Regions from separate parts of the Homo sapiens genome. Here region 1 is linked to region 2. The links come from fine-mapping of genetic effects on gene expression. A gene starts in region 2. The other region holds a variant in brackets. All regions are shown on one strand. Distances are from middle to middle. Region 1 overlaps ARHGAP9 (Rho GTPase activating protein 9). Region 2 holds the start of DCTN2 (dynactin subunit 2).

Region 1 (4,383 bases), 69 kb before region 2:
CCTGCAGGCTTTGTAAGGGCGGTCTCTTCGCGATGAGCCGCTTTAGTTTGTTGCGCACGCGGTTCTGCTCGGTGCCTTCGGGCCCCCGAACTGCAGGAGGCAGGTAGAGCGGGGCGTGAGCGCCCGGGAGCCTCGCTGCGCTCCCGGACTCTCCCTCCCCAGCCCGCGCCTCACTGGAGCTCCGGCGGCTGCTGAGGCGCAGCAGCGGCTTGGACACCAGCTCCGACTCCTCTTCTTCGTCCTCCCCGGCGCTCAGCTCCGCGGGTCCAGAGCCCGACAGACGCAGCTCCAGGGGGTTCTCCCGATCCTAGACCCGGGGCGGGCCGTGTCGAAGGTGAGAGAGGAGAGAAATCTGTATCCCTAGCTGGACTCTGACCCACTGCCGGGGTCCCACATCCCGGCCCAGGCAAGGGCTCTCCACTGAGCCCACCCTGCCCCCAACTGCTCCTGACTCCTATCGTTCCTACCCCACTCCCTTGGTCCCGGCCGGTCGGAGCCTCCCTCCGGGCCTCCACCCATCTAACCAGCCGCTCGATGACAGTCCGCAGCGCGCGGTGCCAGGCTCGCAGCTCTGTCTCGTGGTCCGACTGCAGCAGGAACTCGTGGCCAGGGATCGTGCGGATCTGAGGGCCAGGCAAGGAAACGCTCGGGTCAACGGGAAGGAGTATAATAAGCAGGGAGACCTAGCGGGAGGCCTGCGCGGGAGATTGGGGGCGCCCTCGGGTCGGGTGGGGCCTTGGGGACGCGCGGGAGGGCGCTCACGTGCAGGACGTTGCGGCGGCTGGACAGGTGGCGGCCGTGCGCCAGGGCCGCCCCGCGCAGGTCCACGCTACTTTCGGGCCGGCTACCCGCTGGTCCCTGACAATGAGGGAGGAAACTGAGGCCACGGTGTTGTTTCCTTCACTGCTTCCCTCTCCCCGGTGGGCTGTGAGGAGGTGGGAGGCTTCCTCACTTCTTTACTTTCCTCTGCACCGCCCTCCCCGCTGCCGCCCCCACATTGGCGTGAGGCGGTAGGCAGCGCCCGCACCCATCCTGCGCCTCTCGCTCACACTCACCCAGCCTGAGGAGGGCGCTGTCGGCGGTGGCTCTCGGTAGAACACCAGGCTGTTACCCGTTAACACCACCCAAGACGGGCCCCAGTTCTTCCTGCGGGGACAGAGAGGGGAGGTAGTGGTAGCGAACAGGTCATTCTAGAATGACACGAGGAGGGTGCTCTTCCAACACCCTGCTCTACCCTATGGAGTTGACAGCCCAGGCCCTAGCTGTATTCTGGGTTCTCACCTGAGCTTGCGCCCCCCTTGGGCAATCTTGGTCATGTTGAGCAGACCCGACTTTTCCACCTCCTGGGAAGTGGAGGGAATGGGATCTGTAAGTCACCCTCGCCCTCCATAGTGGCCACGGCTTTCCCTAGGGGGTCTCCCAGGAGTGAAGTCCCTTAAAGTTGCTGGGGGAGGGCTGGGTAGGAGGATATTCAGAAAGAGGAAGATGTTTATGTGGAGCAGGAAAAGGGGGGAGGGGGGGCAGGGAGGATCTTGGCCTTCACAAAGAAATGGGAGATTCACATGGGGGTCGTCCAGGAGCTGCGGCAGAGGTCGAGGGGCCTGCAAGGCTGGAGGGTCAAGCTGCGAGGTGCGTTGGCTGAGGCTGAGTGAACCCTAGGGGAGAGGATTGGAGAAACAGGTGGGGAAACGCTCGACTCAGGGATCCCTGGCTGAAGGAGGAAGAGGGGTGGGATACGGGTGAGAGGTGGGGGGTGTGGTGGGGAATGGAGAATGTCTTACACAAAACAGAAAGTCATAACAAGCTGGCTTTTTCTGCATGTGACTGGGAGATGGGAGGGATCTCACCTGTGGGTCAAGCGGTTCTGGGGTCCCTGTGTCAGATCTGAAGCCCTTTGCCTGAGGTTGCAGGACATCATTGTTCCTCTTCAGGGTCTGTGTCCCCTCCATGGAGCCAGGGTTCTGGGTTAGGGGAGGAGGAAATAAAGCTACATCCAGATGCCACCTCTACCCACTCTCCACACCCTTCTTATACTTGGCTGATTCTTCTGATCTTCTGAGAGCCCCGGAGAGAAAACACACTACCTTGAGGTTCATCAGGGGAAGGAAGAGCTTGAGGGGACAGTGGAGAAGCAGGAGGTAAGGTCTCACCGTCTCGCTGCGACTGCGGCGCGGGGGCTTCCAGGACTTGCAGCCAGTCAGTGAATTTATGTAGAAGCAGCGTCCAGAGTTGGGGTCCAGGTGCTGCTCCCAGGCATCCAGCCTCTGCAGCAGGGGGCATGCAGGGCCTGGGGGTGGGGACCGAGGACAGCGGCGAAGGTCCACCAGGTTACAGTACACAGGGGG[C/T]TCTGACATGAGGGGCTGGGGGCCTGCCTGCCAGAAAAGGGGGAAGAAGGAGGTGGTCATTCTGCCTGTTGCCCTTCCCATGCTTCTCTTGGCCTTCCCACCTCCTGCTCCCTCCCCCATTGTCTTCTCACCGCCAGCTCTGGGCTGAGGTGACCCAGGGTACTGGGGGAGAAACCTCAGGCCCCAGCTGCTTTTTAAAAATTCTCTCTCTCACAGTTTTCTTTGCTCTTCTCCTCACTTCCTGTTGCCAACTTCCCGCCTCCCCCACCCCACCCCCACCTCAGGGCCACAGGAAAGGGGAACAGGCTTTTTGTGGGGTGGGGGGAATGTTGAAGGGGGTGCCCCACCCTCACATCCTGCAAGGTAAAAGAAGACAGAGAAGGGTCTACAGAAGGGAAGAGGAGCCCCTTTCCACCCACGGTTAAGAAAGAGAGGGAAGGGCTGGGCAAGTCACATCTCTAGAGGAGACCTGCTGTAGCCTATCAGGCAAGCAGAACACAGAAAAACCCTGCCCTGGGCTAGGAGTCTGGAGGAAGGAAGAGCACAGGGCTGGCCTTTCAGTGCCTCCACTGCGCCCTGTGCCCTGTCCCCTCAGGGCCTTTGGTACCTACTGTCCCTTCTCACCTCCTACCCAGTTTGCCTCTCGGCTGCCTCTTTCTCCTCCTTGCTCAGAGTCAACTGAATGCCGTGACCTCACAGATGTCTCCCCGCACCACCTCAGCCACTCTCCACCACATTAACTTGCCTTTAGACTTATCAGTAGTACCAAGCGTTATCTTATTTATTTGTTTTTGTGTTTGTCATCCCCAGGGGAGTCCCCTGAAGACAGAGGTGCTGTCTGTCCTGTGCCTAGAACAGGGCCCAGCTCAGAAGAGCTGTGACTCACTGTGCTGGCACTGGCTTCTGACGGCAAGTCTTCCTGGGAGAGGGATCTTCCGCTTGGTCCTTCCTGGAAAGGCTTCAGAAGGCTGGGGCTCAGATTGTCAGTGCTGACGCTCCTACACATTTTGCGGGGAAGTGGAGGAGGCTGCTCCGAGCTAGCCTGAGCCCTGCTTGGGAGGGCCTGAGACAACTCCTCCAGGGAACCATGAAACAACTTCGGCCCTGGAAACAGAAAAGGGGAGGGTGGGTGGCAGGTGATCAGAGGTGTTGTTGTAACTGGGTCCCTCATCTTGGGAACTCACAGGGAAGACAAGAAGGGCAGAGGGAGGATGTGGAAAATGGCATGAGACCTAGAAGCCTTAGGACTAGGAGGACAGGCAGTGGGATGAGGATGCCATGGCGGGGGCAAGAGGTAGGCTGATCAAAGAAAAACAAGAGAAGATGGTTAGCAGAAGCTTGAGGGAGGGGGACCTCCCCAAAATTCCCAGAAGCCAGGGAGGTAGGAAGGTGATGGGAGGTAGGAAGGTGAAGGGAGAGGGCTTAGCGCTTACTCACCAGGAGTCCAGAGCAATTGGCCGGGGATGACGGTAGTTGGACTCTGGGAAGGGATGGATTCCTCTATCATATAGGCTGCTGGGACGAAGATGGGTCGAGAGGTGGAGGGAGCTTCTAGGCGTCTTGCCAACCACCAGTCGGAGTTGGTCTTTCGAAGCAGTAGGAACCTATCCCCTTCAGCCAGAGACACCTGCTGGCCATCTGCCCCAGTATAAGTAAAGGCATAGAGGGCACAGAGCTGGGATCCCCGAGGAGGGCTTCGGGGGCCCAGCCCTAGGATCCCCCAGGAACTTGGCCACCACCGGCTGGATAGCATTGTAGCCAGCACTGTCACCTGTGAGAAAAAGGGACACTGGAGACCCAGAAGGGAATAGGCCTGGCTGTCTCCAGGTAGACAGACATGGTTCTAGGAGCAGTGTTGCAGGGAGGTGAGGACGGGAGCCCTTGAGTTGGGGGAGAGGGTAGAGCAAACAGCCTGGTGAGGATCGGTGACAGGTTTTGGGGGCTGAGAACTCCTGGTGGTGTCTGGTGAGGAAGTATGTAAGTAACATGAGAGAGGATGTGGTCAGCAGGGCTGCATGGCCAGCAAGGCAGGAAATTA
Region 2 (4,383 bases):
TGGAACCCATAAATACAGAGAACCGATTGTATACACTCCTATTCTGTGAGGACAGAGGCAGCTTCCTATAAGATGCCTCTTGGAGTGACAGGTGCACACCCAGGTCCTTGAGCAACAACATCATCTGCATTATCTCCAAGATACTCAAGCTTAGGGGATAGATTGGCATGCCAGCAAATACAGAAGCCACAAGGAACACACCACTGGGAGAAGGGACAGAGAAGGTGTTTCCCACAATGTAAGAACCACTTCCACATGGGGGAGTCAAATAAGAAATAAGTGAGTACGCCAAGCCACACATTGTAAGCCAGCAGTCAGCATTCCCCAGAATTAACCAGCCCCACAGACATAGCCACAGGACTTACAGACAAGCATACTGAGCCTGCATATTGCAATGACTCTTGGACACATCTTTACTGAGAACTCACATCATCAATGTGATCCCAGCCCAGCTGTCTTCAGAAATAATAGAACCTAAAACACATCCTATAAACACACCTCTTGGCACTTAAACAGAGTTTTTACTATGTTGATTTCCATTCACTCAATTTTTTTTTCCTTCTATATGTTTCCTATATGTATCCTAATTCCCCATTAGTCTGGGGCTCATTGGGGGCAGAGACATTTCTTCCTCTGCATTGCACAAAAAAAACCACAGAATGAACACACTCAATAAACCATACTAAATGTTTCCCCTCACAGTTAAAATGTATCCGTACCTAATTACTCCATCCTCAGAATTCTCGGATCTAAAAATGCAACCACAGTCTCACATCCGCTGATGTGAAATATTTACATTCTTCCTCAAATTTGTTTTGCTCTAAAATCTTGGAATCACTTTCTTAATTCCTTGCCCAATGGATACTGGATATTCATATGGAAAAAGTATTTCTCCATATTTCAAAGTCTAGTTCTTGGTAGCAGTTTATTACAAGTGCCCAGGCTTCATGATTCATTTCCATGGGTTAGAACCCAGGGGCCTAAGTCACTAGCTCCAAACCTGTTTTGAGATATTTCAATTTTATTTAAAAGGCCCAAGAATCAGGGCTTTGCAAACAGATGTTGTTAGCTGTAATTCCGCTGACTTGACTCTCCCTCCTGCCATTGCTCATTGGTGGCTGCAAGCCCAGCAAGGTCTTTGCAAGCCCTGCAACCTATATACCACCCAGGCTGGGGTTGGCATACCCGCTTATTGCTGTAGCTCCCCCGAGAAAGGGAAGGACCTGTCTAGGGGAGAAAGGTCAGAGTCCGGAGGAGTCTGTGGCAGCACACATTCTTACCGCATCGAACTCCGCTTGATCATCCTCAGGTAGGTCGCTAGTTTCATAAACATCTGGCTCATTCCTGGCCTGCAGGTAGAAGCAGTGACCACCCAACCTCACTACCCAGCATCCAACAACACCCCTTCCCCCACTCCATTTGAATAAGCTAACAGAGAAGGCGGGGTGTGATGTCAGGGTTCTGTCCTTTCTCCTCCACCTGCCCCGTGAGTCAACAGTATGTCAGTTCCCATGTCTCAAGGGGTAGGGATGACAGCGGAAACAATTGGGACCTGACAGTAAACGGTGAGTGTAAGTGATAGCAACGATGTTACCCTAAATCTAGAGGCGGGCAGGTCCTTGGCAATCACTATTGCCAAAGAAGGTGAAGGCTATCCTCCAATTAGGCCCCGTACACCACCACCCTGGCACAAGGATTGAGAGTGACTCAGGACCTTAGTACTCAAGGTCCTGTGTCCCAACCCTCACCTTGAGAAGCAGGCAGGGCAGCACAAAAGGAAGGTACACGCCAGGATTGTCATGGGAGTGGGGGCTGGGGGAGGGCATAGGTTCCCTCAAGGATAGAGCTCCCCATCTGGCACAAGAGGGTTCTGCCAGATGGCAGAACCTCTTCCTTGGCAGGATGAAGGCCATCGTTAAGTGGTCTGGTGTGTGTGTCTGGGGTAGCGATGGGGTCTTATGGAGAGATTTGGGGGGGACATGGGAGGCGTTGACACGGATGGTGGAAAAACTCAGGCACAAGAGGTCAGTACCCGGAGTCGATTTCTGGGCCGAGCTACCGGCGACTGCCGGAAAGGGGGCCTGGTGCGCCGTCCGGCGGCCCGGCCCAGTCGGGTCAGAAGAGTTCGGGGGGTGCTGAGGCCGATCGGAGAACGAGCGGCGGGAGCCCTTGGGCGGAGGATGGGCTGCAGGCGGGAGGGGTCGCGGGCTGGTTTCTGCTGGGGGTCCTTGGGAGGTCGGGGGCGCGGTCCTGGGGAGCCGGGGCCGGTCCTGTACTCACAATGCCGGGAAGGTCGGCGTATTTAGGGTCCGCCATGGCGGCGGCGAGACGGGCTGGGGGACCCGGGCCTCGGTGGAGCCGGGGCCGGTGTTCGGGTAGGGGAGAGGCTGGGTTCGGGTCCCGGGCTAAGGCGGCGGCAAAGGGAGCGGCAGATGAGCAGGAAGTCTCGCGACAGCAGTAGCACAGCAGAAGGGTAAAGCAAAAGTCGCGAGAACAGCCCTGCTGCCACACCCCTGGAGAGGCCGGGATTGGGGAGAACGAGGCCAGGGAATGAGGTAATGGCCAGGGGACGCCGCCTAGGATTGTGGGATGTGTAGTTTTGGTGTACTGGAGCTTGGGCGGGGAGCGACAATAACGAACCTTGGGGAGCTATTTCATACAGCCTTTTCTCTCACTTTTACAGCAAGTCAGTGAAAGAACATTTATAATTCCTGTTTGGGGCTCCCAGGAATAAAATGACTAGATTAAATGATACAGGTAGTCATACTGTGACACAGCCGGGGTTTCAAAAACAAGAAGTTTGCTTGATACTGTGTATTATAAAAACAAAATAAAAACAAGAAGTAAAATTTAGTAAACGCGTAGTGTATGTTAGGAATGAAAAAGTTAGGCAATCTTCTCAAGTAAGGGCTTTCAGATAATTTGAATTTCAGATAATAAGTAGGTGTGTGTGTGTGGTGTGTGGTGTGTGGGTATACTAACCCCCCAAAAATTAAGTATCTGAAATTCACATTTAACTGGGCATCCTGTTTTTGTTTTTTGTTTTTCAAATCTGGCAATTCTATCTGAAGTTCATAAGTAGGTAAGTGGTGTCTCCATGTCTGTCTGAACACTCTCTGGGCTCTTAACTACTTCGTTAATAGTTCTCAGACTTTTATTTATTTTTCAATTTTTTCAATTTTGTGGGTACACAGTAGGTGTATGTATTTATGGGACACATGAGATATTTTGATACAGGCATGCAATGTGAAATAAGCACATCATGGAGAAGAGGGTATCCATCCTCTCAAGCATTTATCCTTTAAGTTACAAATAATCCAATTACTCTTTAAGTTATTTTAAAATGTACAGTTGAGTTATTCTTGACTATAGTCACCCTATTGTGCCATCAAATAGTAGGTCTTATTATACTTTCTAATTTTTTGTACCTATTCACCAACCTTACCTTCCGTTCTCAGACTTTTAAATTTCATCGTTCAATAAAATTAAAACAACTACAAACCTTGAAGATTTGCCTTTTTATTTTATCAAGTAAGTATATTACAAATAGAAAACCTATTATTTACTGTCACCATCATTACTTGGTAGAAAAGCAAGAAGGACACACTCAGAATAAAAGATAGTCCTTTGAAACTTATCAAATCCATCTTTATATTAAAAAAAAACTCACCATTGTTCTTTTGGAGGTGAGGGCATACTCAGTGAACTTTTGTCTCTGACCAGTGACCCTCCATGGACTGGCATTTTGAAACCCCTTTACTAAAGATGCCACCTTGGAGCCCCTGGGGACCCAAGGATGGGATGTTTCCCAGGATGTTTCCTGAGCTTGCAGGATGCTGCAACACTTAGAAATTGTGCCAAACCAAGTGACTAGAGAGTTCCTGAGTTCGGAACTCGTTGTCTTTCTTTCTCCTGGCTCCTCCCCAAGCCTCTATCCCTTTCTCCATAGTCCTACAGCTTTCCTGTCCCATTCCTTATGTTGGACTCTTTTCTTTCAGTTCCCTTAAGATTCAAGGTAGGTTAGAGGTGTAGCCCCAATGTGGGAAACCCCCTGAGTTCTGAATAGTTAGGTCTTGTCTGGCCAGGCTATCAGCCTCTTACTTTTGTCCCATAGTGTCTTAAGTGACCTTAACCACTCACCAGACAGTTGCTGAGCAGAACTTTCCTTTCCTCCTCCTTCTCCCATCCACCCTGCCCTTCCTCTTTGCCTAGAACCTCAACTCCTGCAGTCCAACTCTCTGTTGGCCAGCAGAGGCCTGTGACATGGAGAAAAATCAATTTGGCCAGCTTCTTGGTGGTTCTTTCCAGGGGCTGCAGCAGGAGTCTGACCCAAAGGAAGGAAGGACAAGGAATCTCTGGGCTTGGCATTTCTTTCGTTTTTCT

What was found. PIP is the estimated chance that this variant, and not a neighbour inherited with it, causes the effect.
Region 1: its variant is the best candidate, but not a certain one, in a credible set for the expression of DCTN2 in whole blood (TOPMed, PIP 0.53).

What each region holds. Positions count from the first base shown.
Region 1 is chr12:57,475,309-57,479,691 of GRCh38, forward strand. It overlaps ARHGAP9 (Rho GTPase activating protein 9), which reads right to left. Exons shown (of 18, transcript NM_032496.4): 2 at 3,783-4,116; 3 at 3,232-3,449; 4 at 2,151-2,372; 5 at 1,848-1,961; 6 at 1,563-1,655; 7 at 1,282-1,343; 8 at 1,056-1,146; 9 at 763-858; 10 at 525-623; 11 at 175-307; 12 at 1-90. The coding sequence starts at 4,098. Among named protein-coding and RNA genes, the nearest start is that of ARHGAP9, 2.4 kb to the right of the region's middle. RefSeq lists enhancers at 593-1,482, 1,952-2,081, 2,532-2,731, 3,092-3,141. The variant C/T (reference allele first, on the strand shown) is at 2,346.
Region 2 is chr12:57,544,748-57,549,130 of GRCh38, forward strand. DCTN2 (dynactin subunit 2) reads right to left here and starts at 2,445. Exons shown (of 14, transcript NM_001261413.2): 1 at 2,281-2,445; 2 at 1,281-1,349. The coding sequence starts at 2,316. RefSeq lists an enhancer at 2,574-2,713.